7 separate regions of the Homo sapiens genome follow, and regions 1, 2, 3, 5, 6 and 7 are each linked to region 4. Evidence: fine-mapped expression QTL. A gene starts in region 4. Each other region holds a variant in brackets. All regions are shown on one strand. Distances are between the middles of the regions.

Evidence for each region. PIP is the estimated chance that this variant, and not a neighbour inherited with it, causes the effect.
Region 1: its variant is fine-mapped to the expression of AJAP1 in unexposed skin (GTEx, PIP above 0.99).
Region 2: its variant is fine-mapped to the expression of AJAP1 in whole blood (TOPMed, PIP above 0.99).
Region 3: its variant is fine-mapped to the expression of AJAP1 in pancreas (GTEx, PIP above 0.99).
Region 5: its variant is fine-mapped to the expression of AJAP1 in whole blood (TOPMed, PIP above 0.99).
Region 6: its variant is fine-mapped to the expression of AJAP1 in lung (TOPMed, PIP above 0.99).
Region 7: its variant is fine-mapped to the expression of AJAP1 in ovary (GTEx, PIP above 0.99).

Annotation. Positions count from the first base shown.
Region 1 is chr1:4,753,764-4,758,194 of GRCh38, forward strand. The region is part of intron 2 of AJAP1 (adherens junctions associated protein 1); the gene reads left to right. Among named protein-coding and RNA genes, the nearest start is that of AJAP1, 100 kb to the left of the region's middle. RefSeq lists an enhancer at 638-1,499. The variant G/T (reference allele first, on the strand shown) is at 2,379.
Region 2 is chr1:4,711,464-4,715,894 of GRCh38, forward strand. AJAP1 (adherens junctions associated protein 1) reads left to right here. Exons shown (of 6, transcript NM_018836.4): 2 at 437-1,236. Among named protein-coding and RNA genes, the nearest start is that of AJAP1, 59 kb to the left of the region's middle. RefSeq lists an enhancer at 1-144. The variant G/A (reference allele first, on the strand shown) is at 2,430.
Region 3 is chr1:5,196,656-5,201,086 of GRCh38, forward strand. No RefSeq gene overlaps it. Among named protein-coding and RNA genes, the nearest start is that of LINC02782, 100 kb to the left of the region's middle. The variant C/T (reference allele first, on the strand shown) is at 2,132.
Region 4 is chr1:4,652,513-4,656,943 of GRCh38, forward strand. It overlaps AJAP1 (adherens junctions associated protein 1), which reads left to right and starts at 2,097. Exons shown (of 6, transcript NM_018836.4): 1 at 2,097-2,942. The coding sequence starts at 2,914. RefSeq lists an enhancer at 88-137.
Region 5 is chr1:4,734,112-4,738,542 of GRCh38, forward strand. The region is part of intron 2 of AJAP1 (adherens junctions associated protein 1); the gene reads left to right. Among named protein-coding and RNA genes, the nearest start is that of AJAP1, 82 kb to the left of the region's middle. RefSeq lists an enhancer at 1-268. The variant G/C (reference allele first, on the strand shown) is at 2,125.
Region 6 is chr1:4,604,153-4,608,583 of GRCh38, forward strand. No RefSeq gene overlaps it. Among named protein-coding and RNA genes, the nearest start is that of LINC01646, 35 kb to the left of the region's middle. The variant C/G (reference allele first, on the strand shown) is at 2,282.
Region 7 is chr1:4,975,785-4,980,215 of GRCh38, forward strand. LINC02781 (long intergenic non-protein coding RNA 2781) reads left to right here. Exons shown (of 5, transcript XR_946902.2): 4 at 1,178-1,307. Among named protein-coding and RNA genes, the nearest start is that of LINC02781, 4.6 kb to the left of the region's middle. The variant A/C (reference allele first, on the strand shown) is at 2,249.

The DNA.
Region 1 (4,431 bases), 100 kb after region 4:
GTTTCTCCATGTTGGAGAGGCTGGTCTCGAACTCCTGACCTCAGGTGATCCGCCCACCTCAGCCTTCCAAAGTGCTGGGATTACAGGCGTGAGCCACTACGCCTGGCCTAACTGCTGTTTTAAAGGTGGTGTCTGATAACTCCAATACTTACTTATTCTATGAGACTATGTCTTTTGTCTTTTGTTTTTTCTCTTTGGTTTTTGTTCGCTTGGTTCTGTCCCCTGGTGTGCCTGGTAATCTTGTGTTGAATGCTAGACATTGTGCATGAAAAGCTATAGAGATGATTCATGGCACTAAATCAGACATTGACCAGCTATAGTCCATGGACCAATCCTGCCTGGTTCCTGCGTTTGTACATCCTGGGAACGAAGAATGGTTTTGTCATGTTTAGAAGGTTGAAAAAAATTAAAAGGATAACGGTTTGCAACACATGAAAGTTATTTGAAATTCTATTTCTAGTGTCCACAATTAAAGACTTCCTGGCACATAGCACACTCATTTGTTTACATTTGTCTGTGGCTACACAGGCAGGGGTGTGTTGTTACTACCAAAGCTGTATGGTCTGTAAAACCTAAGCTATTGACTCTCTGGCCCTTTGCAGGAAAAGTTTGCCAATTCTTGCTCTCAAGGCAGTTTCTCCTGTAGCAGAGACTCCCTTTCCCTTCTGGCTACCCACTAGGTTGGGACTATGTGGAGAGAAAGTGAGTTTCCAGTCTCTCAGGCAGCCCATCCTCCTTGACAGTCCCAATCTCCATTCCAAGCTTCCCAGACCATGGATGGCTTCCTGGCCTCAAGCAGCTGCCACTTTGAGGATGAGAGGACAACATCTCACGTCTTCTAAACTCACAGGGAATTCCCAGCTTCTGATTTTCCAGACTGAAACTGAACATTTGTCTATTTGTTTGTTTCTGTTTGTTTTCGGTGACGGGGCCTCAGTCTTGTGCTTTGAAAGGCCTTCTTGGAAACATGGATTAAGACGTTGCTGGGACCCCAGCGCAAAGCAAGGAGTGGCCGTTTTCCTATGGCTTCCTTATTCCAAGCGAGCGAGCCTCCCTTGTGCTGCCTGCCCTTGGGTCCTCCTTCCTGCTCTCCCCTCATCTCAACCTGGGGCATTTGTGGGGACAGTGCTCACAGCCACCACTCCCTGGGCCTTTCATGTCCTGACTTGCAACAGCCCCAGTGGGCAAGATGCAGGGAGATCAGCCCTGCCTGGGCAGGAACCCCCAGCTGGCCCACCAGGTGTCTCTGCCTTGGAGCCAGGTGGTATGAGCACAGGGATTCTCACCATGTGCCCTCCCTGCAGCCCATGGAGCCGTGGTTGGGTGGCACTGCCCACTCCTGTCCTGGTGGGAGAAGGGGCACCAGGTGACTGTCCAAGAGCAACAGGGAGGGTAACTGGGGGCCTTTCGAGTGCATCTATTTATCTGTTTATTGTTTTTAATAAAATGGCTGTTGGTGTCATAAAGACAGCAGCTGTTACTGAATTTAACAATATTCTGCAGCAGGAAGCACTCAGAACCCCTGTGGGAAGTGGGTGCGGGGGACTCTCACATGTCCCCCTCCTCTCTCACACCACCCCCACACTTAAGATTGCATTGCAATTTCCCCACTCTCTGGCTGCATAGAGGTTTTAATGAAACAAGGGGATAACCGTCTCCCTCCTGCTGGCTCTGTTGACACTGCCAGTGGGTTTTGCAGGCAGAGCACCCTGCCTGGCCACGGGGCTCTGTTTGCAAGCTTCCGGCCTTGCTCCAGGGAGATTAAGCTGCCCCCACCCCCACCCCCTGCCTGCCCATGGACTCAGTCTAGTACCGGGGGTTTGACTCAGACCTCACTGGAAGGCATGTCTTGGATGTTAAAGGAAAAATTATTCAATGAGACTTGTTAGAGAGCAGTAAGGAATGCTTTACTTGTAAGGAATGCTTTACTTGGGGCCATCACAGCAAGTACAGGGACCACACAGTGGGATTTCGCAATGGGGGAGAGAGATTGGGCTCAACTTAGAACACAGCCTGGGCAAATGGGAATTTGCAGCCAAGGGGTAGGGCGGGGTGGTGGGGGGATTAAAAACGACTAGGAGGAAACACTGGAGTAAGGGGGGTTCTGGCTGTTAAACCCACCTAACAGGGTTCTTGCTGAAGGCAGGCCAGGTTGATCAGACGTCACCTGGGGAAGGGTGAAGGATGACAACGGATCAGAAATGGAGGGTGATCAGATATGGAGGGTGGGGGTTTTGGCTAAACTCACTTAGCAGGGTTCTTTGCTAAGCATAGACTTATGCTTAGCATATGCATAAGGAAGTGCCCAGACAAGCCTAGGAGAAGGTGCAGGAGCCTGATGAGAGTTTCGCCAGGCAGAGGATCTTTGTCACTGAGTT[G/T]GGTGGAGTTTGGCAGCTGCATCAGTGAGCAAGCACCTCTCAACACAGAAATAGAAGTGTGGTCCCCTTTTCACATCACGGGCCCCAAAACAGAAGCAGCCCACAGTGGTGAGGGGCTTGGCCCTGCCGAAAGCAGCTCAGGGAGGGCTGCAGGAGTGAAATGACTATGTCCGCACCGTGGCATCCCTGGCTGGGAGCCCAGGACCAGTGCTCAGGGTGCCTGGGCCAGGTGTGCGGTAGTCTCATGGCATGGCCTGACCTTTTCTGACCCAAACTCCTCAGCAGGGGCTTGTCTGGACCAAGATTCAGCAGCAAGTAATGCCCTCCTGGGTCAATGTCTCCCAAGCTAAGCTCTTTCTCTCCAACTCACAAATGTTTACGGAGGGTCTAGGGCAGAACAGAGATGGCTGGATTTGGAGGGCCTGCCGTGAGTGGAACCCAAGACAGAGAGGCTCCCTCCTGTCTCTGAGACTACATCCTGCTGAGTTCATGGAGGTTTTGTTTTCCTGGGATTCAGACGCTTAGGTTCTGTGCAAGAAGAGTGCAGATGCCAAATTTGTGAGATGCTGGGTTAAGCAAACCTTCTGAAACAAGTTTGCTTTCTGGAGGCCTCTCAAACCTGAGCTTTGTGACTCTCCAGGAGGGAACTAAGCTTCCTACAAAGAATTCCCACCTTGATTTGAGCAGAGAATCCTTGTGGGTTTTCCCAGAATGCTGAGAAGGGTCTTTGGGGAGGGTAGGGAGCCTGCAGTGCCCCCTCCAAGTGTGGAACCTCAGGCTGCCCCTAGCCCTCCCTAGCCTCATCTCTGTCATGCAGCCACACCTGCCTGCCCCCAGCCCTTTCCCCCATGCCTGTGGCAGAGCCGGGGGTTCCCTGGAATGAGATGAGAGCCTGACACAGAGGCTCACACATGAGTCGTTGTTTGGGGAGGTGATAAGGGAGCCCGAGCGAGGCTGGGAGGATTTCATGTGGCTCCTGGAGACATCTGATTCTCTGTGTCAGTGGAGGCCGCCTCACTTCTGGTCTTTCTCTCAGAAGATCCTTTCCTTTGCCTTCAGCACAGACCCCTCCCCTTTCCGCCTCCCCTGTCAGTGAGCTATGCCTTGAAATGCCACAAACAGCACCAGACCCAGGGGCATGCAGTGCTACCAGTGTATTGCTGGGGCTCACTCACATGCCCCCGGGTGGCCAGCTGTTCGCTGATCTGGGCTGGCTTCAGCTGGGGGCTAGGGCTGTCAGCTGTGGCCCATGGGTCTCTCAGTCTCCCGTGGGCTGGGCTGGGCATGTTCTCACTATGATGGCAAACGGACAAAATGGCCAGCCTCATGCACCACCTTGCTCCCAACACTGGCCCAGCCCACAGACAACTGCAAAGCATCCTGGCATGAGTGTGGCTGGAGGGGGTGAGGATTTGGGATCACCATGGAAACACATCACAGGTACCTGGGGAGTGGGTCTACTACAGACACTCATGGTACCTCCTGTTGTAGAAGCTCTTGTCACAGGTGCACTTGCATGAGTATTTGTGATTGGTTGGTTGGTGTCCTCATCACCCTGGTTTGTAGCCTGTTCTGGATGGGGACACTGCTTGCTTTTGTTCCCCTACTGCAGCCTTTGGGTCTAGCCCAGTGCCTGCACACAGTAGGTCCTGAATAAGCAGTTATTGAATGAGTGAAGAGTGCTTTTCTATAATATCTTGAGGCAAGGTGTGTGATATGCTTTTGCTGTGTCCCCACCCAAATCTCCTCTTGAATTGTAGTTCCTGTAATCCCTACCTGTTGTGGGAGGGACCCGTGGGAGGCAGAATTTAATCATGGAAGTGATCACCCTCATGCTGTTTCTGTGATAATGAGTGAGTTCTCATTCTCATGAGATCTGATGGTTTTATAAGGGGTTTTCTCCCTTTTGCTCTGCACTTGTCTTTCCTGCCGCCATGTGAAGAAGGACATGTTTGCCTCCCCTTCCTGAATGTAAGTTTCCTGAGGCCTCCCCAGTGATGTGTAACTGTGAGTCAGTTAGACATGTTTCCCTTATAAATTACCCAGTCTCAGT
Region 2 (4,431 bases), 59 kb after region 4:
GTGTCCGCTGCTGCCATCCTCTCACTTACGTCCTCTCGTCGTGTGATGGGCAAAAGGAAGGAGGGACTCACAGGTCTTTTCAGGTTATCTTGTCGAGGCTGCCCTGAAAGGCTGGGGGTTTCTGAGGCTCGGTTTTCGCTCGCGTGAAATGGACTATTCGGCGACCGGCCGGCTCTGTGCCTGGCAGGCGCCTCAGCCCCGCGGTGCCGGGAAGCAGCTCCCCGCACCCTCGCAGCGCGCGCTGTTCTTGCACGTGAGTGAGCCTTTGAAGGAAAGGAAGGAAGGGTTTCGGATTCCCTTTTGAAGTTAGGAGGAGCTCTTTCCAGAAGAAGAGAGCGTCCTTGTCACAGCGCGGGGTGGAGAGAGAGGGCCCCGGGGCCCAGTCCCCCTCCTGGGCTTCCACTGACCGCTCTTCTCTCCTTTCCCCCCCGCACAGCTCCATGTCCATCCGCTGGCCGGGCCGCCCCCTCGGAAGCCATGCCTGGATACTGATAGCCATGTTTCAGCTCGCCGTGGACCTGCCCGCCTGTGAGGCCCTGGGCCCGGGGCCGGAGTTCTGGCTCCTGCCGCGGTCGCCGCCCCGGCCGCCCCGGCTGTGGAGTTTTAGGAGTGGACAGCCAGCGCGGGTCCCGGCCCCGGTGTGGAGCCCCCGGCCGCCCCGAGTGGAGCGGATCCACGGGCAGATGCAGATGCCTCGAGCCAGACGGGCCCACAGGCCCCGGGACCAGGCGGCCGCCCTCGTGCCCAAGGCAGGACTGGCCAAGCCCCCAGCTGCTGCCAAATCCAGCCCTTCCCTCGCCTCTTCGTCCTCGTCCTCGTCCTCCGCGGTGGCCGGTGGGGCCCCGGAGCAGCAGGCCCTCCTGAGGAGGGGCAAGAGGCACCTGCAGGGGGACGGTCTCAGCAGCTTCGACTCCAGAGGCAGCCGGCCCACCACAGAGACTGAGTTCATCGCCTGGGGGCCCACGGGGGACGAGGAGGCCCTGGAGTCCAACACATTTCCGGGCGTTTACGGCCCCACCACGGTCTCCATCCTACAAACACGGAAGACAACTGTGGCCGCCACCACCACCACCACCACCACGGCCACCCCCATGACGCTGCAGACTAAGGGGTTCACCGAGTCCTTGGATCCCCGGAGAAGGATCCCAGGTGGGGTTAGCACAACGGAGCCTTCCACCAGTCCCAGCAACAACGGGGAAGTCACCCAGCCCCCAAGGATTCTGGGGGAGGCCTCAGGTACAGCCATCTCTCTTCTGGTTTGGGTTTGCTTGGGGTTGAGGGCTGGGAGCGTGACTCGGGAGAGATGCTTAGATGTCCCTGGGTGATGCTATGTGTGGAGGCTCCAGGAGATGCAGGCGTGATGTGTCCATGAGCTTGCACATGCCTGTAGACTGGCAAATACAGGCTGTGCCTTAGAGGAAGGGGGCGTGAGAAGGGAGAGTTTCCCTTTTTAGTATGTACCTAGAAGTGGGCGCTGCACCCCTTGTGCCTCTGTTAGGGACCAGCTGAATCCACCAGGTGCTGCAGCCCTGTTACAGACCGGTGGAATCCACCACACACAGCCACGCCTTCCAGAATCAGAGAATTTTGTCTCTGGGGCCGGCCCTTGAGCAAGATGCTTGCCCGTCTCGTGATACAATTAAGGATCCCCCCGCCCCAGAGTCTTCAAAAGCCTTCAAGGGTATGGGACCCATGGACGGGGGCATGGACGGGGGCAGGGTGCCTGCCAACTTGACCTCGGTAGAGGATTAGGAATGGCCTTAAATAGCAAGAAAGGCCGAGGCTGGGTAAAAGGAAGAACTTCCTGCGGTGTTAACAGAACCTTCGCAGACAGTGATTCAGGTGGCACCTTTCGGCTCCCTGGGGATGTGTCAGGAGGGTGTTTGGAGGACGGAGATCAGAACAAAGGGCTTTGGTTCTTCTGCTGCTGTTATCCTAGCTGCCTGTGGACACACACAGTTCACTGGCTTTGGAATATCTCCTTCTGTGCAGTTTTGTTGTTTTTTATTTTCCTCCTATACGCTGTCCTCCATTTGCTTTGAAAGGAGTAGCCCTTGGAAATCTCCCAAGCCAGGGCTTGTCCCTGAACTGGTAGCCTGCACTGATGTCACCAGGCTTCACAGCAGGCCTGCGGGGAGAGCGCAGAGCCCTGGGCACCCCGTCACCCTCACCTCCCTCCAGTTTTCTCTGCCTCTGTTAACAGGCACAGCCCGATGTGCCAGGTTGGCTCAGAAGTTCACAACCTAGATCTGTGCATACACATTCTAGACAAACAGCAACATTTGCTAACTTTAAAATCGGATGCAGATTTTAGGGCGTCAGTACAAAGTGGGCGGGGGCGCCCTGTGGCCTCCTCACAGCTTGCTTTCCACAACCTCCAGCTTGTGGGCTCGGTAGGCCCCACCCAGGCCTCTGCAGAATCAAGGGGA[G/A]GGAAGAGAACTGCTCTTCAGAGCTCATGTGCAGGCGGCCGGCATGGCATCCAGGCCCTCTGCGTCCTCACTAGACTGCGTCCTGGCCCTGGTTCCTCCTCATCTTGGGCAGGCAGGCACCGGGCAGTCCTTGGACAGGTTTTCATGGGGTGGGTGGCTTTTGTCCTTCAGCCGGTGACCTACTTTCTTCCTTCACCTGGACAAGAGAACCTGCGGTTTTTTTTCTGAGCTCCTCTTCCCTAGAGAGCAATGTCTCTATGGAAGCACAGCCTGGGCTCCCTGCGCATGCTGAGGGCCATGCCCAGAGATGGAGGCTGTGGGCTTGGGAGAGGCTCTGGAGGAAGAGGCTCCGGAGGAAGAGACTCTGGAGGTCCTGCATCGGCTTCCTCCCATGCAGCCTCTTTTGGGAATCCACGGACATGCGGGGTCTGCAGCTCATCCTGCACTGTCAGGCGCCTGCTAGCAGTTTACAGAGTGTTCATTTTTACCTCAGTAAACTCAGCAGCCATCATCATAGTAGGATTTCTTGCTACTCTCCCTTACTGTCACCTCCTCTGTATACGTCACTTACTATATAGACATGGATGAGGAAACAAGTTCCCATTTATTCCAAATTACATTTGTTATTACTAAAGTTAAACACCCGGGACAGCGTTGTAGGCTTAGCAAATTAATTCACAGTGCATTGGATGTTGCTAATCCATCTCGACAGATGCTTATCTTGGAAGCGATTTATGGTTCTTCATAATATAATCTGGTGCTAGATTAATTTGTTTAGCAAAACAAATCTAAAAAGAGGAAAATATGTGTGTTTGTTTCTAATGCAGAGAAATGTTAATTCTGGAACGCAATGCTGGGCCACAGGGAAGGGAACAGGTGGTTTACAGCAGCGCTCATCAGGGCTAGGCCACCATCCTGAGCTTCCCAGCCAAGGCAAAGGGAAGAGAGGAAATGCGGGGATGATTCCCCTAACTGGGTTCCTCATAGCCCAGTGGGTACCATGTAAATGAATTAGACCAGAGCAGGAACAATTTAGGTTACACACTGGGAAGTACTTGCTGGTGATGCAGGAGGTGAGATCTTTGCTTAGGCTACTGAGAACAGGCTGCATAATCTCCTTATCTGAAGTCCCAAGTAGAGGGGGATGGGGCAGGGGGAGGAAAACAACTGTTTAAGCTTCCCCAGATGGAAGGAGTGCTGGGACAGAGGGCTGAACTCCCTGGAACCCCCTTGCTTGGCAGTCATCAGATGCAGACCTGCGCCCCCAACATTTGGTGGAACGTGAACACTACTCACACTTCTCAGACATCTAAGGCAGCAGAAGTGGTCTTGGGGACTCCAGAGCTGCAATCTGGGAGGCCATGAATTGCTGCAGTTAGTTAGCAGGTGCCTTGAGGCTGAAGATCTGGGAGAGAATCTGGGCTCTGTTGCATGTCACTGTGTGACCCTGGAAAAGGTCTCTCCTCTCCTGATTTTCTTTTCTTCACCAGCAAAATTGAGGCTTAGAAATAGGCCGTGTGCAGTGGCTCACGCCTATAATCCCGACATTGGGAGGCTGAGGCGGATGGATCACCTGAGGTCAGGAGTTCGAGGCCAGCCTGACCAACATGGAGAAACCCTGTCTCTACTAAAAATACAAAAAATTAACCTGGTATGGTGGCACATGCCTGTAATCCTAGCTACTACGGAGGTTGAGGCAGGAGAATCACTTGAACCTGGGAGGTGGAGGTTGCGGTGAGCCAAGATCCTGCCATTGCACTCCAGCCTGGGCAATAAGAGTGAAACTTATTTCAAAAAAAAAAAGAAATATTTTTCCTAAACGGTTGCTGTGAGAGTTTAGTGGATGAACACTGAGCATAAAATAAGGCACCTGGCGCTGAACAATTCTCCATACTTATTCGTTGTTTTTATACCCAGCAAGAATGGCCTGAGGAAGAGAGGGTTGCCAGTGTCAGAGGCAGAGCAGGCTGCCAGGGACTTGGGAGTTTTATCATCTCAGACA
Region 3 (4,431 bases), 540 kb after region 4:
CTCTGCAGGTATTGCTTTGGCACACGATGGTGAAAAGACACGGGGAAGTGGAAAATTTTGCCTAGCAAGGGTGGGCAGCAGCTGCCACACTGCAAGTGAAGCAGTCTCAGTGGCAGGGGTTCTAACAGCACAGCCATGGAGCAGGGTTGAAGTATCGGCGGAGCACGACCAATTCTGGGGTGTCATTTTGTTGCGTAGCTCACAAACCTGGCTCTCTGGCTTTCCCAGATATTTGGCGGGTCATCAGTGTCCTTGGATAAATTTATTTGCTATTTAAATTAACCAAAGGCTTTTTCCTGTTGCTTGCAATGGAGAGACTAGGCTAGGTAGATTGTTCCTATGGCCTCATAATTGTTGCTAAGTCCCCAAAACTGAAGAAAGCTTCCAGGCCCTCACCAGAAGCAGGTGCTGGTTCCATACCTCTTGCACAACCTGCAGAACTGTGAGCACATCTGAGGAGAACACGATGTTCTTTTCAGACTCAAACACATCTAAAGAGAACTCCTGGGAAGCCGTAAGCACACATCATCTGAGCGTCCTGAGGCAGCTGGAACATCTCCCATGAGCTGCCCTGCCAAACCCTCCTCCCAAGCCTGCACAGAACCTGAGACAGGAAGAGAGTGAGAAGCATCAGGATTGGCAGATTGGGGATTGTGGAAGAAAAACATGGGGTTATGGTAAGAGGTCATTTCCTTCTTTCTGATGGAGGGGAGCTTCACTCTTCTCTATCCCAAATCACCTAGAGAGTGTGTATTTGGTGGGGGAGGGGGGATGGTACTTATATGGTTTGGATATTTGTACCCTCCAATTCTTATGTTGAATCGTGATCCCCAATGTTGGATGTAGGGCCTGGGGGAGGTGTTTGGGTCATGGGGGCGAATCCCTCATGAATGGCTTGGTGCTATTGTCATGGTAATGAGTGAGTTCTCACCCTAATGGTTCACAAGAGAGCTGGTTGCTTACATAGTATGCACCTTCCTTCCATCTCTCTCTTGCTCCTCCTTTCACCACCTGATGCGCCAACTCCCCTTCCCCTTCCATCATAATTGGAAGCTTCCTGAGGCTCTCACCAGATGCAGATGCTGGTGCCATATTTCATGTACAACCTGCAGAACTGTGAGCCAAATAAACATTTTTTCTTTATAAGTTTCCCAGCCTTAGGTATTCCTTTAGAGCAATGCAAAATGGACTAATTCAGGGATCTAGAAGAATCACTTACAGATAGGATGGCTGCACATCTTGGCTCACTTGGGGCAGATTCACCCATTGTCTCAGAGTCATTTCTAGTAGCATCCCCTCTCACTCTCGTAAGTGTCCAGGTTTGGCCAATCAATTCTGTGGTCACCGATTTACTGAGCATTCATTTCCAGCAAGGCTTGCAGACCCACTCTAATGCTGGGACACAATAATAAGAGGGTCCTTGTGAGAGAATGACATGAATCTCTTGAATTTGGGAGGGGAAATCTGAACACAGATCTATGCCTATTTTATACCTGATGCCAAAGAACTTGCTGAAATACCAGCTCCAGCAGGACAATGTGAAAATGGCATGTACTGGGTCTGGGAAGGAAGATGGAGAAACTCCCACCTTACCCTGATCCTCCACAACTCTCAGAGTTCACAGAGAAATCTTCTGGGATTCCCTTGGTTTCATATGAAGAATTACGGAGGTTAGAGGAGGATGCAGGAGTTACGGAGATGCCGTGAAGATGCTGCAGGTGGAGAAGGGTGGGATGTGGAGACCTGCATCCCTCTGAGCCATCCTCAGTGATGGAGGCTCCTGCAGTAAGAAGGAACATCACACCCCGATAAAACCACACTCAGCCTCTGCACAGAGACATTCATCAGCAGAGGCCATAACTCAACTGAGCCACTTCAGGACAAAGGACAGCTCACCATTACCAAGAGCTGCTCCTTGCATAATTTGACCGTTGTTTTCCCTCTTCAATCCCCGACACCAGAGGTGTTACCAAGCTTGTCCAATCCACCTTATTTTGTTGTTATTGTTACTGTTGTTCTGTCTTGCTTTTTTTTTTTTTTTTTGAGGCTTTTAGTAGCCTGAAGCTGTGGTTTTTTAGTTTCCGTCTCTAGTGATAAGCAGAAAAGAGGGATGAAAAGGGGGCATTACTAG[C/T]CCAGCCAGAAACAGAAACTAAGAACCCATGCCTGTATTCTTTCCCTTGGACATCCCTGTTAGAAACTACAAAAGGGTGGAGGGAACAGGAGTGACCTACTCTTTCCTCGCCCCCTCTTCACCCCATGGGCACACACACAACCATATCCAAGTTCTTTAGCTGAGGGTCTGGGCCACACAGGGTCAAGAAGAGTGTTGAAACATTTACAAAATTAGAACTTTAAACAGGACTGGACTAATTTGAATGACCAGCAGCAACCGAGACATTCTTAAGTAACAGGAAAGGAGGGCTTAACATAGCATGGTTAGTGAAAGAGATTGAGGAACAAATTTCCACTGAGTTGAGAGCGTTCCATAAACCAGGTTCAAGCTCAGGACAAACATCTTTTATTTTCACTTGTCCAGCATTCTCTTCCTCCTAATTTTCCACTGGGAAAATACACACTCCCCATTCCCAGTTTCTGCGGCGGAGGAAGGTCTGCCCATTGTGCACCTTCCACCCACCCATCTTCCTCATCCCCAATCCGGAAGTAGACATGTGAGTCAGGTCTTGCCAATCAAGAGTGATTATCAACTAGCACAGCTTCTGCAGGGAATCTGTTGGAAGGAGAGGTTGTTTTTCCACTGTGGTTACTCAGCTGGTGGAACCGCCAGCCTGGAATTCATGATCACTCTCTGGCCTCTGACAAGGGAAGAGCTCGTGTGAACACAGAGAAAAGGAGGGCCAAGAGACACAGAGCACCTGGATACCACTGTGCCTGAAGCTAGATACCCCTGAGCTTTTTAGTTTTATGAACCAATCCATTCCCTTCAATGATTAAGACACTTTGAAGTGGATTTGTCACTTTCACTGAAAAATACTTACCTGATGCAGATGTTCAAGTAAGTGGGAAAGGAAGGTGTATCAGTCAGATTCTAGCAGGAAACAAAAGACAGGAGATAGATGAAGTTAAAGGAGCCAACAAGAGATAGTAAGGTACCCAGGCAAGTGTGGAAAGGCTTTACCATCCCTAGGCTTGTGCTACTGGAGTCCCATGAGAGCAGGAATTCTGAAAAACGGGTCACCTGCTAGATGTCACAGCCACTTCCTTAACTGTGCTGAGTAGAGACCTCCCGGTCTTTGACCTCCTGCAAGTACTTCCCGTTGGCCAATCTCAGAGGGAGGGAAGTCAGGGTGATGCAAAAAGTAGAGAGGGTGTCTCCATGGCATTGTGCAGATGAAAGCAAAGAGGAGAGGTTGTGGGAAGACAGGGGGCAAATGCAGACTCACAAGCTGAGGATGCTTCTAATCTCCCTGCAGTATCCCTGTTCAGACAAACAGCAGGCTTGGGGGGGCCTCACATCCTCCAGTCATTTTTAGCCTACAATGAGTGCCCCATGAAAATCAAATGGCACATTGACATCACAGAGAGCAGGAATGAATGCTGGTATTGTTGATCCTTGGTCATTCCCGTCTGAGTTCAAGGCTGTTTTCCCCATGGTATTGTGTCCATTGTTCCACGGCTGGTGTGTCCTTCCTCCTTTCTCTGAATTCCACCCTTTGTTCAAGACCTAAAGTTTCATCTTATTTGTGAATCTGCTCCTGACCTCCCCAACCTGTGGCGCCCACACCACCTTAGCCTCACTGCCATTGATAGCACTTTTCTGATCATGGGGACACAGAGTCAGGGCTAATGCCTCTGATTCACTCATTGGAGTCAAGATATTTCTAGCCTCCTTAGGGCTCGCATCCCATGAGGAAGGGCTGGGTCTTACGCTTGCTGCACTCAGGGTTTCCACCCCATTTTCCCTTCATCACCTGCTGCCCTCCTCACTCATCCCTGCCCATGTGCCATATACCAGGCTGTAAATGATAGGCACCTAATGCATATTTATGAGCTGGAGTGTTTGGGGAGGAGAAATTGTTTTTGTTTGGCTAAGTCTAGAATCCTAGAACCACAATGTTTATAAAATATCTTTTCAAAGAGAATAGGGCAGCTTTGAACAAGGAAAAATGAATGAACCAACACAAGAAGAACTGTTCCAAGACCCATATTCCCAGTTAGTTTAGGGCATGGGGGATGGGATACACAAGAGACCTAAAGTTTCAGGGAAACTCATCCATTCAACATCCCATGCCCCCTTAAAATCTTGTCAAGGTGATTTTATCCATGCTGCTGTCTATGCTTGCCACTCAGAGTTAATCAATCTTACAGTCTTGGAATGAAAAGTTACATTGCATTTCTTAGTTGCTGTGAGAAGCACAGATTACTTTTGGGATACTTGATCTTGGTTCCTGCCATCATCACCTCATGGCCCAT
Region 4 (4,431 bases):
ATTTGCATAGAATTGGTTTCCTAATAATCCTGGGCTTTTTCATCTATGCACTTAGAAGCCATTCTGAGAGAGGTCAGCAGGTGTCCACAAGGCTGCCCAAGGGGTTCCTGGAGCCGACACGGTCCGGTCCGGAGCCCCTCCCTGCCCTGCTGGCTCCTAGTGTGCGAAGCCGGCCCCTTCCAGGCCCACTCCGGTTGCAGGAAGGGCCTCCCTGGTGCAGCACCGCCTCCTCACACCGCTAGGTGGCAGCACTGCCGGCGCCTCCTTCCCCGCCGGCCGCCATAGGCCCCGCTGGTTCCAGGACCTCCCTGCCTCCTTCGCCTCTTAATGGGATCCGCTCCCTCACACCCCTCAGGGAGAGGCTCTAGGGGACGATGACCCAGGGGCGGCCCGGCAGGGAAACTGCTGAGTCACCCTGCTGCCTCTCGGGTCCTCTGACCGGCTCACAGATCACCATAGCCACAGTGTGTGTAAGGCCTTCTCATGGAGCCCTGCAAACACCTCCCCGGGGAGGGGCTGTGGGACCCATCTTACAGATGAGGAGACCGAGGGTCGGAGAGGCCACACAACTCGGCCAGGACCCCGAGTTAGCAAGCGCTGGCCCCTGGTCCAGCCACGGCAAGGCTGGCCCTCCTGCCACCACACTTCCCTGCCTCTGGCCCTCTGCCGGGAGTCTTGGTGGGGAAGTCACTGTCTTCATCCTCCTGCCCGGGCAGAGTCCAATCCTGTGCCTGGCTCCTCAAGACCGTTGGCAAAGATCCTGGAGGCCTGGGGGTGAAAGGGCTGCTTGGGGGACTTAAGCCCCAAGCTATGGTTCGCCTGGGAGACTGAGCCCCAAGCCATGGTCCTCCTGGCTCTGCCCTTCCACCCCCTCACTGGCTGCCCCTCCCAGGGAGGCCTCACCTGTGAAGTGCTTCCCGCCCCTCTCACCCCCCACGGCTCTCACATGGCCTGGGGCGATTCCAGAGCTGGCCTGGGTCAAGCACCTGCACAGAGCACAGAGCGAAGGCTCGGCATGGTATATCCCCCGCCCCTTGCACCTTTCCCCAGTGAAGGGTGGCACCAGTGTCCTTTCCAAGGCCCGGATTCTGCACTGCCCTCAGCCTGTGGAGGATTAAAAGCAGGGTTTTGCCGTGGTTTCTCAAGGCGTCAGCGGGTCTGCAGAGGATTCCGCCCCATGTCACTTCTCTCAGTGAAAGGTCCCCGCCCAGCGTCTGTCCTCCTTTAAGTGCCCCCCATTTGTTTTTTGTTGTTGTTTTTGTTTGTTTTTTGCAAATACAGACTAACCAGGTAGGCACAGAGGAGTCCTGGCATGGGAAGGGAGCAGTGAAACGCCGGTGGAGAGTCCGGGAGGCCCAGATTCCCTGGAACTTTCCAGTGACTCCTCCGGAGCAAGGGCCTGGCCAGGCAGCAGCTGCGCTGGGCGATGAGGGACCGTTGGGTAATTGGGGGCATAGGACCGGGCTTCGCTGGGTTCGGGGCAGAAGCGCCGAAGCTCCGACCCGGAACGCGGTGACTTCATCAACGCAGAAGCCCGCGCAGCCGAGCAGAGGAGTCCCTCGTAGGCGACCCTCGGACAGACGCTCCTGCGCGGCCCGCGTGGCTCAGCTCCGCCCCAGGAAACTTTTCGCGCAGCCCCCGCTCCATGCGCCCCCACCCAGTCCTTCTTCGGGGCCGCCCCCTCCCCAAAGTAGCTCTCCGGGTCCACTGGGCGCCCCCGTAACCGGGTCGGAACCTCGAACGGCTTCGCGTGCCATCCGGTTACCCTGGCAACACCATCCGGCGGCGCCCGGCGGTCCAATCCTAGCCTGCGGCCTCTCTCGAGCCTTTCGCAAGGTGGGGACCGGGACGCGACCGGGGATGGGGAAGGGGGCTGCAGGAGGCCCCGCCTGCGCTGTCGCCCCTGCTGGGCACAGCGCCCCCCACCACCCGCGGCGACCCCGGCCCCCGCAAGGTGGGGCGGCGAGCAGGAGCCGGGGCCAGGCCAGGGGCTCGAGCTCCCGTTCGAGGGGCGGGGAAGGCGGGTGACGTGAGCCGGGCCGGGCGGGCGGAGTTGGGACCGGCTCCGGGAGGCGGGGGCGAGCGCGCGGAGAGGCAGACGCGAGGAGGGAGGCGGCTGAGCAGCGCGGGCGGCTCTGCGGCGGGCGCGGTGGGCGCGGGCGGCGGGGCCCCGGGATCCCCGCGCGCCTCCTCCGCGCGGCGCCGCCGCCGCGCGTCCCCACGCCCCGCGCTCCACGGCGCCCTCGCCCCGCGCGCCTCTCGTGCCCGCCTCCTGCCAGTCTCCGGGCCGCGGCCGTCTGCAGAGCGAGCGCTCAGACGGAGCCCCCGGGCAACTTGAGTGGCGCCGATCGGCGGCGGAGCCTCTGGCAGAGCCCCCCGACCCGGCAGCGCGGAGGGGACTCGCGTCCGTCCGCGTCGCGTCACCCCAAACCCTAAGCAGCGCCGCCCCATCGGCGCGGAGCTCCGGCTGGAGGCAAGAGCCGCGCGCCGGGAGACACGCACCGTGAGCGGCAGCGCCGCCGGCCTCCCTCCTCGCCGCCCCGGAGGGCGAAGCCGCGGCTCCCCAGCCCTTTGCTGCGCCGCGACAGCGCCGGAACACGCCCCGCCTCGCTGCCGCCTTCGCTGTGCCGCCGGCGGAGGGGGCCGCGAGCCCCGCGCCCCGGCCGGAGGATGTGCGCCCCCGCGGGCCGCCCAGCCTGAGCCATGCGCCCCAACGGCGGCGGCGCGCCGGCCGGCATGGAGCCCCGCGCGGCCGCGCTCTGACTCGCTGTGCGCCCCGCGGCCGGCGGGCGGCGGGAGGCGGCGGACCGAGAGCCGGAGACCGGCGCCGCGGGACGGAAGCGAGCGGGCGCGGGCGCCGCGCAGATGGCCTGGGCGAGCCAGGTCTGAGGCCCCGCTCCCCGAAACGTGACCATGTGGATTCAACAGCTTTTAGGACTCAGGTGAGCGACCCGGCCGGCGCCGGGTGCGTGTGGGCGCGTGGGTGCCAGGCTGGGCGGAAGCGGCGCTTTCCTCTATGTTGCAAATCAAGGGACCCCTCTTCGCTTCCCGCAAGCGGGCAACGGGGTGCACCGGTAGCCGGAAAGGGGCGCCCGCCCGGAGCCTGGAGCAGCACCGCGGCCCTGGCGGGGAGCGGCCGGGTCTCCAGGGTTCCGCGCGTCCGGGGTCGGGGCAGCGGCGCCCGCCCCAGCAACCCGGGAAGTGGGGCCGGCCAGGCGCGCCCGCAGCTCTAGGAGCCAGCAGCGCAGTGTCCTGGCCGGCTGCCCCGGCGCGCCTCCTCCCCGGGGCCCGGGGCGAGGCGCCGGCCGCTGGGCGCGGCGGGCGCGGGGGCCGGGGCTGCCGGGGAAAGCTAAAGCTCCGGGCTCCCAGCGAGAGCTTCGCAGGCGGAGTTGGAGGAAACCACAGCCAAACAGCCACTCCGCTCCCCCTTCTCCTTTCTCGGGGCCCCGGGGCTGAGCAGGGGCCTCCCAGGCTCCCAGCTGCCGACCCAGCTGTTTGCGGGTGACCTCCGGGCCCGACGGGCGCTCACAGCTGGCGGGCAGCTGGGGCGGGAGAGCTGGGGTTCTTGGGGAGCTCCGGCGGCCACCCCGCTGTAAACACACACGCACATACGCCCGCCGGCGCGCCCGGGGCTTGTCTGTGTCTGGGACTCCAGGGCCAGATGGAAGAGGGGGTTCGAGCCTAGAGCCCGTGGTGGGGGTGTCCAGAAAGACCCTTCTCGGCAAACTTTGCCAGCCCGCCGGGGTTCTCGGGCTTCTCTGGCTTCTGCCTGGGGTGGCCCAGGGCCCACCAGAGCACAGCTGTCGTTTTTGCTGGGCAGGCTGCCTCTGAGCCCTCGCCCTCCTGCCGGGGCATTCACCGAGCTCGTGCATTTGGGTCCCGGGTTGGAACCGCGAGCGGGGAGGACAGAGGTGGAGGCGGAGAGCAGCGTGCGGTTCTCGAGTTTGTCCACTGGGATGCACTGCGCTCCCGCGTTGGGGACGAAAAGGCCAGTAGTTGTTAGCCCGCTGCTTGAGCCGCCCCCACTCAGGGATGAAGCTGCGGGGGGAGTGAGGCGAAGGGAGGGAGGATCTAGTGCGTGTCCTGATTTTGAGAAATCGGAAGGGGACTGGGACGCCAAGTGTTTTCTAGCGACCCTTGATTTATGAGCCGATTCTGCTCCCAGAGGTGAATACTGTGTAACACATCTAGTGAACATTGTCAGATGTTATTATTAGCATCCCTTCTCTCAGTGGCCGATCTTGCTGTGGGCTTCAAAGGTTAATCATGGAGCCGATTGTGTTGGGTGTGGGATATTGGTCGGGCGTGAATCGATAAGTGTGCTTGGGCTAGATAAGGTTTAGGCTTGGACCGTTGTGGGATGTTGGCAAAATGGAGCGAGGACAGCTTTGCAGGAATGACCCTGATCCAGGTGCCCTGGAGGCCTGCCAT
Region 5 (4,431 bases), 82 kb after region 4:
CATGACAATTAAAATCCAAATACAGACCTGCCAGGGCCCTGAACCCATGCACTTGTTCTGTGTGGAGGAAGAGAGGCACCCGCTCAGATGCTCCTTCTTAGATGAAAGGAGTGCCTCAGCTGAGCCCCGGAATAGGAAGGGCCTGCCCTACTGAGCCTCCTGCCTCACTATTAACAGCGCTGCGTCCATACTGGGAGCCAGGTTCTGACAGCTGACTTGAATTAAATCTCATAAGGCCCACAGGACACACGTCCTGGGAAGAAGGCATTCCTCTGATCTTAAATCAGCAGAGGCAGAGGCCCCGAGAGGTTAAGTGACTTGCCTGAGGTCACACAGCCTGAAGGGGGTGGAGTCAGGATTCAAACCTAGGTTCCAGGGATGGTGTGTTGACAGCCTGCACTCATCTGACTGTATCTCCTTCAGTCTTCTCCACCATCCCTTGGGCGTATGGTATTTTACAAAGTAGGAAGTGGAGACAGGGATTAAGGAGTCTGTCCAGGTCTGCCCATGAATGAATGTCAGGCCTCGTCACTGCAGGAGCTCGGACTGCACTGGATGGGGCTGGAGTGGCACCTGTGGGCGATGCTGAATATGATGCATGATCTGTCTTTCGGGTGTTCTTGGAAGGAAGGAGAAGGGCAGCACCCAAGAGGGGTCAGTGATGGTGGCAGGGCCAAGGCTCTCACCTTCCCCCGGACAAGGTTTCTAAGGCCCGGGAAGCATCTTCTGCTTCCGAGGCCCGAAACAGTGGCGTTTCCTCTTCCCCGAGCACTCAGCCTCCATCTGGCTTTCTGTCCACCGGCACAGATGGCAATGTTGTTTCTCGACTCCTCCGTCCATCGCCTGCAAGCTGAGCCGCGTGATGGAGCTCAGCCTGCAGCAGCCGTCTTCACCTCAACTTCCCTGGGAGCCGTCCTGCTTTGCTTACACGTATGAGCTCCGCGTGCTTGGCGACCCTTGAGGGTGATAGAGGGCCGGGTAGAGGGGCTTCTCTTCTACACCTGGGTGAGCTCCGCACCAGCGGCAGGAGCACACCCTTACAAAAGCCTGCCACAGCACGCAAGGCATGGTGGGACCAGGCCTCCTGGCTGCTAGAAGAAGACAAGAAAAGCATACTGGGCTGAAGTCACTTCAAAAGCTGGTCACAGCAGGTCTTTTCTTCCGTGACACTCACATAGGGGAGATGGGGAGAGAAGTCATCCCTGGAATTCCAGCCTGGAGCGTGTGGGAGGGAGGGTGCGATGTGCATCAGTGGGGTGAGAACGCCTATTGGGAGAGGGGACCAATTTGGGCCCCAGGTTTGGGACTCTCCTGGTTGAATGTCTCGCCCATCCAATTTTGCAGGAAAGGAGCCTGGTATGCAGGCTCAGCACCCACTGCACCGGGTGGGCAGCTTTATTCTGCCTGTGGCACTGGCCTAAGAGCTCAGAAAGGTTTAAAAAGATAAGACAGCCCACTGAATAGCCAGGGACATTCAGGAGGCTGCACACGGAGGTCTCTCCTCCCAGGCTGCCTGCTGTACAGTGGGCACCTCTGCCTGCTGTGTGAGGTGTGAGGTGAGCTCCTCCCTGCTCCTCTGCTCCCTGAAGCCCTACCCTGGCTTGACTCATGCAGTGCAGCCATCTGAGCCTCAGTAAGCCCCTCGACAAGCTGCCGCCTCCTCCGGGGTCCCATCTTCCTGAAAATGGGGCACAGCCCCTGTTACCCCTGCCTCTGGCCTCGGAGCTGGCTCCCCTTCCCTGTGTCACTGCAGCTCAGCCCTGGGGCCCGCCTCCTGAGGGTCTCCACGGTGATCTTCAGCCTTTGCCATTGCTGGTCAGATTGAGGGGAGCAGAGCTTAGAGGAAGAGGGTTGGCGCTGAGGTTCCTTAAGGCCCCAGATCAGCTCCCTACTTGCTACAGTGGCAAGCTGCCTTACCTGCGCCTTACTTTCCTCATTTGGAAAACAGGGGTAAGAAAAATGCCAACCTCCCAGGGTTGTCAGGAGAAAAAGTTAATGTTTGTAAAGGGCTTGGGATGTGCCCTGGCACATGGTAAAGGCTGCAGAGGTGTCCCTGAGACCGTTGACAGAAATAGTTTTCACATAGTTGCCCCATCAGTTCTCCTAAACCACAGCTCTGATGTT[G/C]CCCCTCGCCTGCTCAAGAACTGTCATTGGCTCCCCACTGCCTACCCCAAGAAAGTTCAAGCTCTCTCACCTCTTTTCCAGGCTGTGACCGCCTTCTCCCTTGGCCTCCTGTTGCCCGCTGCGCTGTGCGCAGCCCTCCCTTTCCCACGGTCTTGGCTCTGCCAGTCACATCTTACCCCCTCCCAGCTCACTCTGCTCCAAAAACACCAGCCACAAGTACTTCCCCTCCCACACATCTTCCTCTAATCCTCTGTGGCCAGCGATAATCTCTTCCTTCCTCAAATGTTCATGCTGCCTTCCTGGTTGTATTTATATGTATAAATAACTGCAAAATAGGATTAAAAGTGAGGCCCTGACTCCCCAGTGAACCTGCAAGCTCCTTCAGGCCCGAGCCTTGATGTGCTTTTTGATTCTTTTTATCCTCTGTATAGCACACGGCAGAGCAATTTGCACACGTAGGGAGTTCAATATGTATTTATTGAATAAGCAAATGAAAATTAAAGAATAAAGAAAAGGCCTTGTAGCTCAAACCCCTAGTTATCCCAGTGTATCTGTGGAGAACGTGCGGGGGCCGCTGGTAAACTTGGAGTGCACAGCTTGGGTGGGCTGGTTGGAAAGAGGGCTTCTACATGGACCTGCAGCCCTAGGACTCAGACATGGGTCTCCAGGGCTGACTACTGGGGGTGGATTGAGGCCTGAGAATTCTTCCCTGCGGGGGCTTATTTTCATGCCCAGGTCAAGCAAGGGCCCCGCTTAATCCAGCCATCATCTAGAGAAAAATGGTTGAATGAACTAGAGCAACTCTCTGAATGTACTGGAGTTGGCACACTTGCATTGGGCAAAGTGGGAATTATTACGCCTGTTTGCAGCATCGCGAGCAAAGTGGGATGCTGTGTGAGAGCGTCCTTTCCCTGCCTGCAGTTTACTATGGGGCTGTGGATGGGCACCCCTGGGATGGGAAGGTTCTCACCAAACCCAGGCTGGGAGGAGGCTGGGGCAGAGCAGAGAGTCGGGAAAAAGCATGAGCCTGAGCCTGAGCCTGAGCCTGCCCCCTGGCTCTGCCGAGTCCCTGGACAAGCCCCCGTCACCACCCACCCCTCGGCCCCTCACCTCTCTCAGGGAAATGCCATAGCACTGATTACCCGGCAAGGATGGGGACCTGTGGGGTGAGATTTTTTTTTCTGGGGCTCGTGTTGGATTTCCTGGTGCAGCAACAGGACGCAGTGCAAGTGCAAGCAGAGACGGGAGCCCCCCCGAGACGGAAGCCCCCCGAGATCTGCGAGCTCATCCTTTCCTTAGGCCTCTGCATAGGCAGGGCCAGGGTGCCCAGGTCCCAGACTCCTGAGGCCCTTGTTGTGGGTTTTAAAGAAATTCTAGGCCAAGTGCAGTGGTTCACAGTTATAATCCCAGCACTTTAGGAGGCCTAGGTGGGAGAATCACTTTAGCCCAGGAATCAAGACTAGCCTGGGCAACAGAGTGAGACCCCGTTTTCTACAAAAATAATTATTTAAAATATTAGCTGGATGTAGTGGTGCATGCACCTGTGGTCCCAGCTACTCGAGAGGCTGAGGCAGGTGGATCGCTTGAGCCCAGAAGATTGAGGCTGCCGTGAACCATGATTGCACTACTGCACTCCAGCCTGGGCGACAGAGCGAGACCCTCTTTCAAAAAAACCAAAACCAAAACCAAAACCAAAACCAGCTGCCTTTTGCACCCATGGTTCCATGTGGATTTTGAAGAAGCCCAGAACTCAGTTTCACAAGAGCTGGTTAAACTCCAAAGGTGTGCAAAGCACCTGCCTGGGGGAAACAGCTTCCCAGGCTTGATTTTACCTGGTACTGAGTACAAATTTTACTCATTCCAAATGTTACACTTCTTGTCTTGCTAATGTTTCAGAAGAGTAATGGGACCCAAAGCCCAGGCGTCCTTCAAGCATGCAGCCCCCAGCCACATGGCAGGCCACGGCCATGCATGATGAGGCATGATCAACACAACAGGGGCCCTGCTCTCATGGGGCTAGCAGGCCCACAAGGGTGATTGTCTGGAAATTCACTCAAATAAATGCGTAATTGTCAACCATGTTGAGCAGACTGAGTCAATACACAAGATAGCATAAGAGTCTCTGCAAGAAGAATGTGGATTGACTGGGGAGTTAGCATGCGTGAGGGGCCTCTCTCTGAACAAGGGGAGGGTGATTAGGGGGTAGCTGGTCTGGAGCTAAGAGAGAGCACTCTAGGCGGGAGGGAAGCCAGCCCTAGGGCAGGAGTGGAGGTTGTTGGCGAGAGCCACTGGCAGGCAGATTTGGTG
Region 6 (4,431 bases), 48 kb before region 4:
GGTGGCTTGCAAAACATTTTCAACCAGGAAAAGGCAAAAAATAGAGTCAGCAGCATCTCTGGCGTCAGAGCCAAACTTGCCTCCGGTGGAAGGTTTCAGCCATGATCTCCAATCACACTTCGTTGCCTGATTCTCTATGCTTACAGTGCAAGCAAGGAAGAGGATTGGAAGCACCATGTGAGGTGGGCACAGCTCACAACCTGGAGGGTCTCAAGTGACGTGTTCGGCCCATGACCCATTAGCAATGTTATAGGAATCTATTTTCTGGTTAGAGGTTGGGTGGGTGGACTTCTAAAGGTGCAATGAGGATTCTTGTCTGGGAACAATTCTCAGTCTTGCTTGGTATCAGATGCAGCCTTGGGAGCTGGGACATTCCAGGGAACTTTATAGTTGACTGCAGAAAGGGACCATTCGGAGCCCCGCCGGGGACAACTCCCCACATTCCTAGTACCCATTCAAGGTCAAGTAAGTACTACCCCTGGAGGGGTTTGCTTTCATGTTTTTCAAAGTTGAATCATCTTCTGTCGACAGAAAAATGGCAGAATTCATTGTCCAACTCTGGCTGTATTTTGGGGGTGTCTCCCTAACAGGTGTTTGCAAAGATTTTCAGGTTTAGAGGAGTCACATAGGAGAACAACAGGCAGCTCTGGTTTTGCAGTTAACAAATGCACAGGAACATAATTTGGAATCTCTGTATGTATACATATCTAATTATAGTAACATAATACAAAAATATAATATTTAATATCTATGTTGATGCAAAGGTCGGAGAAACCTTTGAGCCTGCTGGTTTACCTTCCAAACTTAATGTAATAACCCTCAGGAGCATTGCAAGGGGACTTTGAAACTCTGGGCTCCTGCTTCTGGGCTGCAGCCTCCAGACATCCTCTGTAGTCTGTAACATAGCTATTGGGGGCGTAAGGGGTGACTCCAGCCATTCCAACATGTTTAGACTATGTTAATGATGAGGTGAGGCTCTGTGATCGGGAAAGTGACCCCTCTGGCTATCACATTTCTTCGGGAGCCTTTGTCCTGGTCCCAGAGGCTGACCAGACCACTGAAAAGGAGAAAACAGGAATGTTAATTATGTAGCTCCCATGCTACCCAGAGAATTTACTGAGCAAGAACCCAACAACTGCTTGGGAAAATTGAGGGCGCGTGCCCTTGGAGAACAAGGTTCTTTTGCACATTGCCCATACCGGTGCTTACAACAGACCTCACGGCTGGAAGAATCTCAAGCATGACCTGATAATAACATGCTCTTAGAAACGGGGGCTGAAATGACTGATGCTCTGCCAAGCAGTGGGTTAAGTGGATTCCAGGAATTGTTCCTGATTCTCAGCAGCAGCAACCTGCCTGGCATGTGGTCAATTCCATCCTCATCACTAAAACCTAACCTCTTCAAGGTCACCAAGGACTTCCACGTGGCTGAATCTAAGGGACGTGTCTGTCCTCATCATGCTCAACCTTTCTGCAGTATTTAGCACAGCAGGTCATCCTTTTCTCATGTCACCCCTCCCTGGGTCACTTCCTACCCCCCTGGCAGCTCCTCCCCAAACTACTTTGCTGTCTCCTGTTCCTCAGCTCAGTCTTTAGAGATCAGAGCACCCCATCTCCCTCCTGACTCCTTCTCATCTCTATCTCCACCCATTCTAACTTCATCATCCAACCCCATGGTTTTAAATCACCCCATGGACTGATGATTCACAAATGTCTCTCTCCTCCCTGTGGCTCTGGTCTCACACATCCAGCTGCTTGCTTGACTTCTCCACTTGAAAAAGCACCATACATCTCAAGCTCAGCATGTCCCAGGGACAGCCTGGTCTCCTGCCTGCCCTGGCATTGTCCCTCACTGTTCTTCCACCCTTCAATGAATCTGACCACCCCAAAACTCGGAAATCATTCCAGATACTGTGTTGTCTTCTCCTCCCACACTCAAATCCTCACCCAGCTCTGTGGCTCTCTGGCTGGGTCACTGCAAGGCTCGAGATCCCTGTACCTGCTGTATCTGCTGCACTTCCCCCATCGTGGGCCCATCAGAGTCCTGGATTCCTGCAGTAGCTCCCACCCATCTTCCCACGGCTTTTCATGCCTCAGAGCCTGCTCTCGACAAGGAGCCAGAGTGGCTTCTGTTTGGCTTCTTTGTTTTTAGTGTAAACCAAATCCATCGCTTTCCTCCTTAAAATCTTTCCATAATTTCCTGAGTTCTTAGAGCAAAACCTAAGCCCCTTAGTGTGGCCCACAAGACCCCATGTGGATGGGTCTCTGCTGGGGCATTTTC[C/G]TTGTCATGCCTCTGCCTGGTAGGTTCTTCCCCACCCTTAGCACATCATGTCTCACCAACCGGCCCCTAGGGCACCCCTTCTGTCCACCTCTCTAAAGGTGTTTTACACCTGTGCCTGCCCGTTGGTTTCCTTGGGATGCAACAACAAAGCACCTTAGCCCAAAGGGCTTCAACAACAGAACTTATTTTCCCACTGCCCTGGAGGCTGGAACCTGAGACCAAGGTTGGCAGGGTTGGTTCCTCCCAACATTTCTTTCCTTGGCTTGTAGACACCATCACCTTTCTCTGTCCTCACATGGTCATCCCTCTGTGTGTCTGTATCCTCATGTCCTCTTTTTATAACGATGCCAGTCAGGACCCACCCTAATGACCTCATTTTAACTTAATGGCTTCTTTACAGATGCAGTCTGCAAATATACCACTTTCTGAGCTCCTGGGGTCTAGGATGCCAACAGGTACAAGAGGTACAGCCCAGACCACATTGTCCTGACCCTCCACATCTCATCTCTCTGCTTCTTTCTCTTAAGTAGTCACTACGTTTTAGAATGACCTCGCTCTCTTTTTATTTTTTCACCTTTTTTGTTGGCTGTCTCCCGGGATGGATATTTTGTTTGTTTGCTTGTTTGTTTGTTTGTTTGTTTTGAGACAGAATTTCTCTCTTGTTGCCCAGGCTAGAGTGCAATGGCACAATCTCAGCTCACTGCAACCTCTGCCTCGGAGGTTCAAGTGATTCTCCTGCCTCAGCCTCCCAAGTAGCTGGGATTATAAGCAGGCACCACCATGCCCAGCTAAAAATTTTGTATTTTTAATAGAGACGGAGTTTCACCATGTTGGTCAGGCTGGCTGGTCTTGAACTCCTGACCTCAGGTGATCCACTCACCTCAGCCACCCAAAGTGCTGGGATTACAGGCATGAGCCACTATGCCTGGCTAGGATAGACATTTTATGAGGCTTTTCTGCTAGTTTGCCAAGTCCTCACCATCCATACCATGGAGGCTGCAATGACATCTTCTACAAATACTTGGGAAAGTTCCAGAGGAGAGGGGATTTCAGTGGAGAGGATGAAAAGTAGGAGGAACTGTTCTGGTTATTATTAGTCCCATGGAAAAGATGGGGAGGGCTCAAGGGCCAGAATCGCTGAGATGCCCAGACGTGGGCCATTCTGAACCCAAAGCTCATCACTTTCTCCTCTTCTGTCCCTGCCTGTAGGAATGGGCATTGTTGCTTCTCAAGCTCTGGGCAAAGGAGAAAAATCCCTGGTCACCTGTGCAGAACAGACGTGAGTGAGACTCTTACAAGGCCACCTGCCCAGCCCTGGTGGCTCCTAGTCCAGGACATGGAAAAGGGGCTGCTGCCCAGAAAGCCAGGAGGGCGAGAAGACCTTGAGAATGTCCAGAACACTGAGAACTGGATTAGGACCTAGAGGCACTGGGCCCCTGGAGCCTCAGAAGGATCAGATCCAGAAATGGAATTGTGCTGTCTGCATCCTCTCCCGGCCAGATCAGTGCAGAAGTTTACTCTGTGAATGACTCTCCTCTATCTGCTGTCAAAAACTACCACCTACTTGATGGCTTTAAACGGCAGAAATTTATTCTCCCACAGTTCTGGAGGTAAGAAGTCCAGAATCAAGGCATCGGCAGGGCCATACTCCCTCTGAAGGTTCTGGGAAAGGGTCCTTCCCCGCTTCATCCAAAGCGGACTCCTGACATTCCTCACAGATGGCCACATCACTCCAATCTCTGCCTCTATCATCACATCGCCTTGTCCTCTGTATGTGTTTGTCCCCAAACTCCCTCTGCCTCTCTCTTAAAAAGATACACATGATTGCATTTGGGGCTGCCCAGATAATCTAGGATAAGCTCTTCTTTTCAAGATCCTTAGCCTAATCACATTTTTTGCCATAAAAGGGAACATTCTCTCTTCTGTCACATAAGGTGGCATTCCTGTGTTCTGGGGATTAGGATGCAACCTGTCTCTCTGGGGCCACCTGTCAGCCCACCACACTGTTTTATGAGTTTCTTAAACAAACAGGTGCCATCTCTTGTGTAGATCAAGGGAAGAGCCTCTGCCTGTCTCACAGGCTGGGCAAAACCGCCCATAATAGCAGCATGACATTTGAGGTGGCTTTTCGGCTTGTCACAGGAATATTC
Region 7 (4,431 bases), 320 kb after region 4:
TTTCCCTCTCACCAAGTTTGCCCCACCCATTCTGAGCTTGACAGGCACCACTGTCCCTGTGTTCCACATGAGCAGGCTTGTTCATTGAGGGACGCTCATTCAATTCACAGAGGGGGCTCTGCTCCACAGCTTTCCACTGTCCCTTAGTCTGCAGGGCAGGGCATGGGACAGGTGCTCATGAGGAGCACCTCCTGAAGGAGGCATAGAACGAAATTCACTGGATTAGGAATTGCACCATCCAGAGCCTCAGGGGTGCTAGCTTTGTCCCTGAGCAGTCTCTGATGTTTATCATGTCCAGAAGTAGACAGAACTGGGAATCATCTAATCAGGTGTCGGGAGGATTCATCACTTGGCACAGGTGTGAGTCCCCGAGGTGTTCCCGCTTTTCCGTCATCTCGGAGGGACCTGCCTATGCTGACTGGTGGGTCATCAAGATTAATAAAGACAAAGGCTTTGGCGGATGCTCAGCTCAGGAAAAGCACCTGGAGCTGCTCTTTCCTGACTGATTAATTAGGGAAAGACGTGGTGGCTGTAATTGGCGGTTGAGTATTTTCTGAATTTTAACATTCGCGGTATGCAAATCTATCAGTTTCTAACAATATCTAACAAGATTATTTGAAAGTGAGAGTCTCCCAAGAGATGCAGGCATGGTTCGGGGGAGATGTGGGGCTCTTCCGGGTTTGTATGCACTCATATAAATCAACGGAACGTTTGTTACCAATTGTTACTAACGTTCTTCAGCAAATTGAGAGATCGACCAGTAAATACGCATTAAACATAATCCTATCTACCTGTTGCATTTAATTCCAGCAGCGAAGACCCATTACACTACTGAAGTTTGATGAATGTTTTCTCTCGCTGCTCATCTGACTTGGAAACGAGTGTGTTTGCTCAGGGCGGGGGTAGGGGGTGGGGGAGTCATGTGCGAGCCTTAGCTCCTTCAGTTTCCACGTGGAAAACTCTAAATTGAAATCCGTACCTCCAGGGACCGTGAGACCAAAGAGAAAACTGTTGGGCCCCAAAGGGACCATTTCCTACCATAATGAGAATTTTAAATGGCGGGTTTGAAATTCCTTGAAAAGCCTTTCAGAAATGTGTGTGCAAATGATGGTTGCTGAATTACTGACAGAGATGCAATTAAATTCAAGGGAGAACGTCTCCTTATTCTAATTTCCAGCCTGAAGACCCTTCTCCCTATCCCAGGAGGAGCCCAGGAACGCAAGCGAGAGCCTCTGCAAGTCACCCCAGCTGCCGCGTTTCCACCCAGGAGGAAGACGCACGTGGGGCGGCACGAGAGATAGACGGAGGTGAGGATGGAATCGGAGATGAAAGGCCCAAGGGGTGGGGCCTGGAGTGGGGCCCTCCCGACATTTCCTTCCCAATGTATTGACCTCTTCTTCTCTTAGACACAGACTAACTAAACCTGGGGGCAGTGTCCGACTGGAGCCAGGGCCCCCTCCCACACCACAGGAATCGGCAATTCCAGCGGCCTTGTTCTGAGCTGTGGGGTGTGGGGCTCCAGTGAATCCCAAGTGTATTATCTCCTTGCACCTTCAGCACTCCCTGGGCAGTGCACACTCTTCCTACCCCATGTTACTGAGTCCTCATGAATCTGCAAGGCTTTAGAACCCAGTGGGCAGAGCAGGCAGACCAGGGAGGCAGCTGCTTCCACAAGTTCCTGGCTGTGAGACCTTTCTGATGAGCCTCCTCTCCTTTGCCTGTAAAATGGGGATACCCTGCTGGGATTATCCATGCCCTGGGGTTGCTGTGAGCGTTCAGTGAGGTAACCCATGCCTTGCAAGGGTGCTCTGTCTGGCCAAACCCATGGCGAGAGTCACTCCAAAATTGACAGCAGGGGAGTTCCTGCAAGAGACAGCCCCAAACTGTTCTGAGATGGGGCTGGCTGGAATTCCAGAGGGAGAAGAAACAATTGCTGGGGTCCTTGCTGTAAAGCATTTACCGGGGGAATTTACATACAGCGGCTGAAGCCCCGTGACAGAAAGCAAGGAAAGGGATGTTTTGCCCACGTATGTCCATGATGAGGTCACGGTCTGGCGTTTGAGGGTTTAGGGAACTTGGCTCAAGGTCGGACTGGTTTCTACATGTTTAGCAACGTGGTCTCTCACTGACTGCTGCAAGCAACAACCTGAACGACTTTATCAGTGCCTGGGAATGTTCCAGAGTTCAGCTTGGGTTCAAGCCTGTAGGAGAAAGCCTGCAGCTGGCCGGGTCACAGAGCAGTCAAGGC[A/C]ATCTGGGCTACTCGGTCAGGACACAGAAAGAAAGCAGTGAGGACTTGGGAGGACCTACAGTGGGCTCAACAAAAGTGGGTCTTGTTATTCCGGAGGTTAAATCATCTGACCAGCACAAGAAAGCAGTGAAGTTGGGATTCCTACCAGTGGTTTTGGCCCCAGAATCATCTCCACATGATACGTTTAGAAGGACAGGGGCCTCGTCAATGCCTGTGGGTGAAAAGATGCCCTTTCTCTTTTCTACTGAAAGTGCCCCTGTGAGACCAAGGCTACTACCATTCAACAGAGGCAGGAATGGAGGTGCACAAACTGACTCCCTGGGTCAGTATTTCTGCTGCTTTTCTGGGTGCCAGTGGGGTTAGGTTTCATGCAAAAAGCCCACAAACAGAGGTTACTCTTCAAAGCCACTGCCCCTTTTGAAGACAAAAAGCGGGGAATGTCACAGCACCACAGCTGAAGACCAAGAGGTCCTGGGAGAAGCAGGGAGTGGTTAATAACAGGAGGAGAGCCAGGACTTTGCATATAAGCTTGCAATGCACCCCATCAAGACTTCCCCGGGAGCTTTTTCCTGTGCTGGGGAATAATACAAATGTGCCCATCAGTGCAAAGGGTGCAGTGAGGGCAGGAAGTTACAGTCACCATCAGGGTCAGCCAAGGAACAGTACATAGCAAGCTGGGTGAGACACTCTGTGCCCCAGGCAGGGCCACTGGGGCGAGTTGGGCCTCAGATGTCCTGCTTCTGAATGAGGGCCTTGAACTCCGTGGTGCCTACATCCTCTCCAGTTCTAAAATAAGATGACATTTAACGAGGTCCCACTGTGTTGATGGGGCACCGCAGCGACCTCGTGTTAAACAGCACCATATTGTTGATGGCTTGACCAGATGCCGGGAGCACGTGATCTTGCTACTGAGTCTCCGTGGCCTCCACTTGGCGGCACCCAAACAAGAGACAGCAGTGTGCAAAGATACTGGGTGTGGGTTTCTCTAGTAGCAGAGAAACAGAGCCTTCTGTGCTTGCAGGGTGCTTGCCCTGCCCTAAACAGCATGAATCTGAACCCCACCCATCCGAACAGCCTGGGGAGGCAGGATGGAGAGACGTCAGAGGGCGGTCACCAGTATCTCACTGCACAGGGGCTGGAGGTTTGTGTCTCGTTAACCTAATGAGGTGACGGTAACTTCCTGCCCTCACTGCACCCTTTGCACTGATGGGCACGTTCATGTTATTCCCCAGCACAGGAAAAAGCTCCCGGGGAAATCCTGATGGGGTGTAGCGCAAGCTTATAAGCAAAGTCCTGGCTCTCCTCTTGTTACTAACCACTCTGTGCTTCTCTCAGGCTGTCCTGGTCTTCGGCTGTAGCACTGTGACATCCCCCACTTTTTGTCTTCAAAAGGGGCAGTGGCTTTGAGGAGTAACCTCTGTTTGTGGGCTCTTTGCATTCCTTCTTGGCTGCTGGGCTCTGGAGATCCTTCAGTGATACTTCAATGCCATTGATAGCAAATGCTTCAAACTGGATCTTGCTGTCCCATCTCCACTGGGCAGAATGGGCTGACCCCACATGAAACATGTGGGGAGATTTTAGTACTAGTCCATCATAAAAACATTTCCTCTCAGAATTTATTTGGATAAAGTAAAGCAGATGAAAATCACCAACTGCCTCTTCCTTCTATTTACTAAATTAGTAAGCTGATGAATAAACCAACGTATATTGAGTGCTTACCCTAGGCCTGAGACTGTGCTAAGTTAGTCTGTGATCTATTATTAATTTCCTCAACAAGTTTGTTCATTAGTTCAATAGGTGTTTCCTGGCCTTTAGCCATGTGCTGGTTATTATTCTAGGCTTTGGGGACAGAGCAGGGAATGAAACAGACAAAACGATGCAAAGCTCCCTCACGCCCAGAGGGAGGTAACTTCTAAATGGGGAGAGAGGTGACAGCAAAGTACATGGGTACAATAATAAAATGCACTAGACAGTGGTCGTGAATGTAGAAAGAAACAAAGTGGTGGGACTCAGGAAAGGCCTCAAGGGGAACATGACCCTGGGCAGGGTGCGGAAGGCAAGGGGTGCCAAGCAGGCAGGGCCATCGGGGGAAGAACACCGCAGATCGAGGCTCCTTGGCAGAAAGGCTGGGGCAGGAATGGGAAAAAAGAGACCATAGGCATAGGTGGAGGCAGATAGGAGGG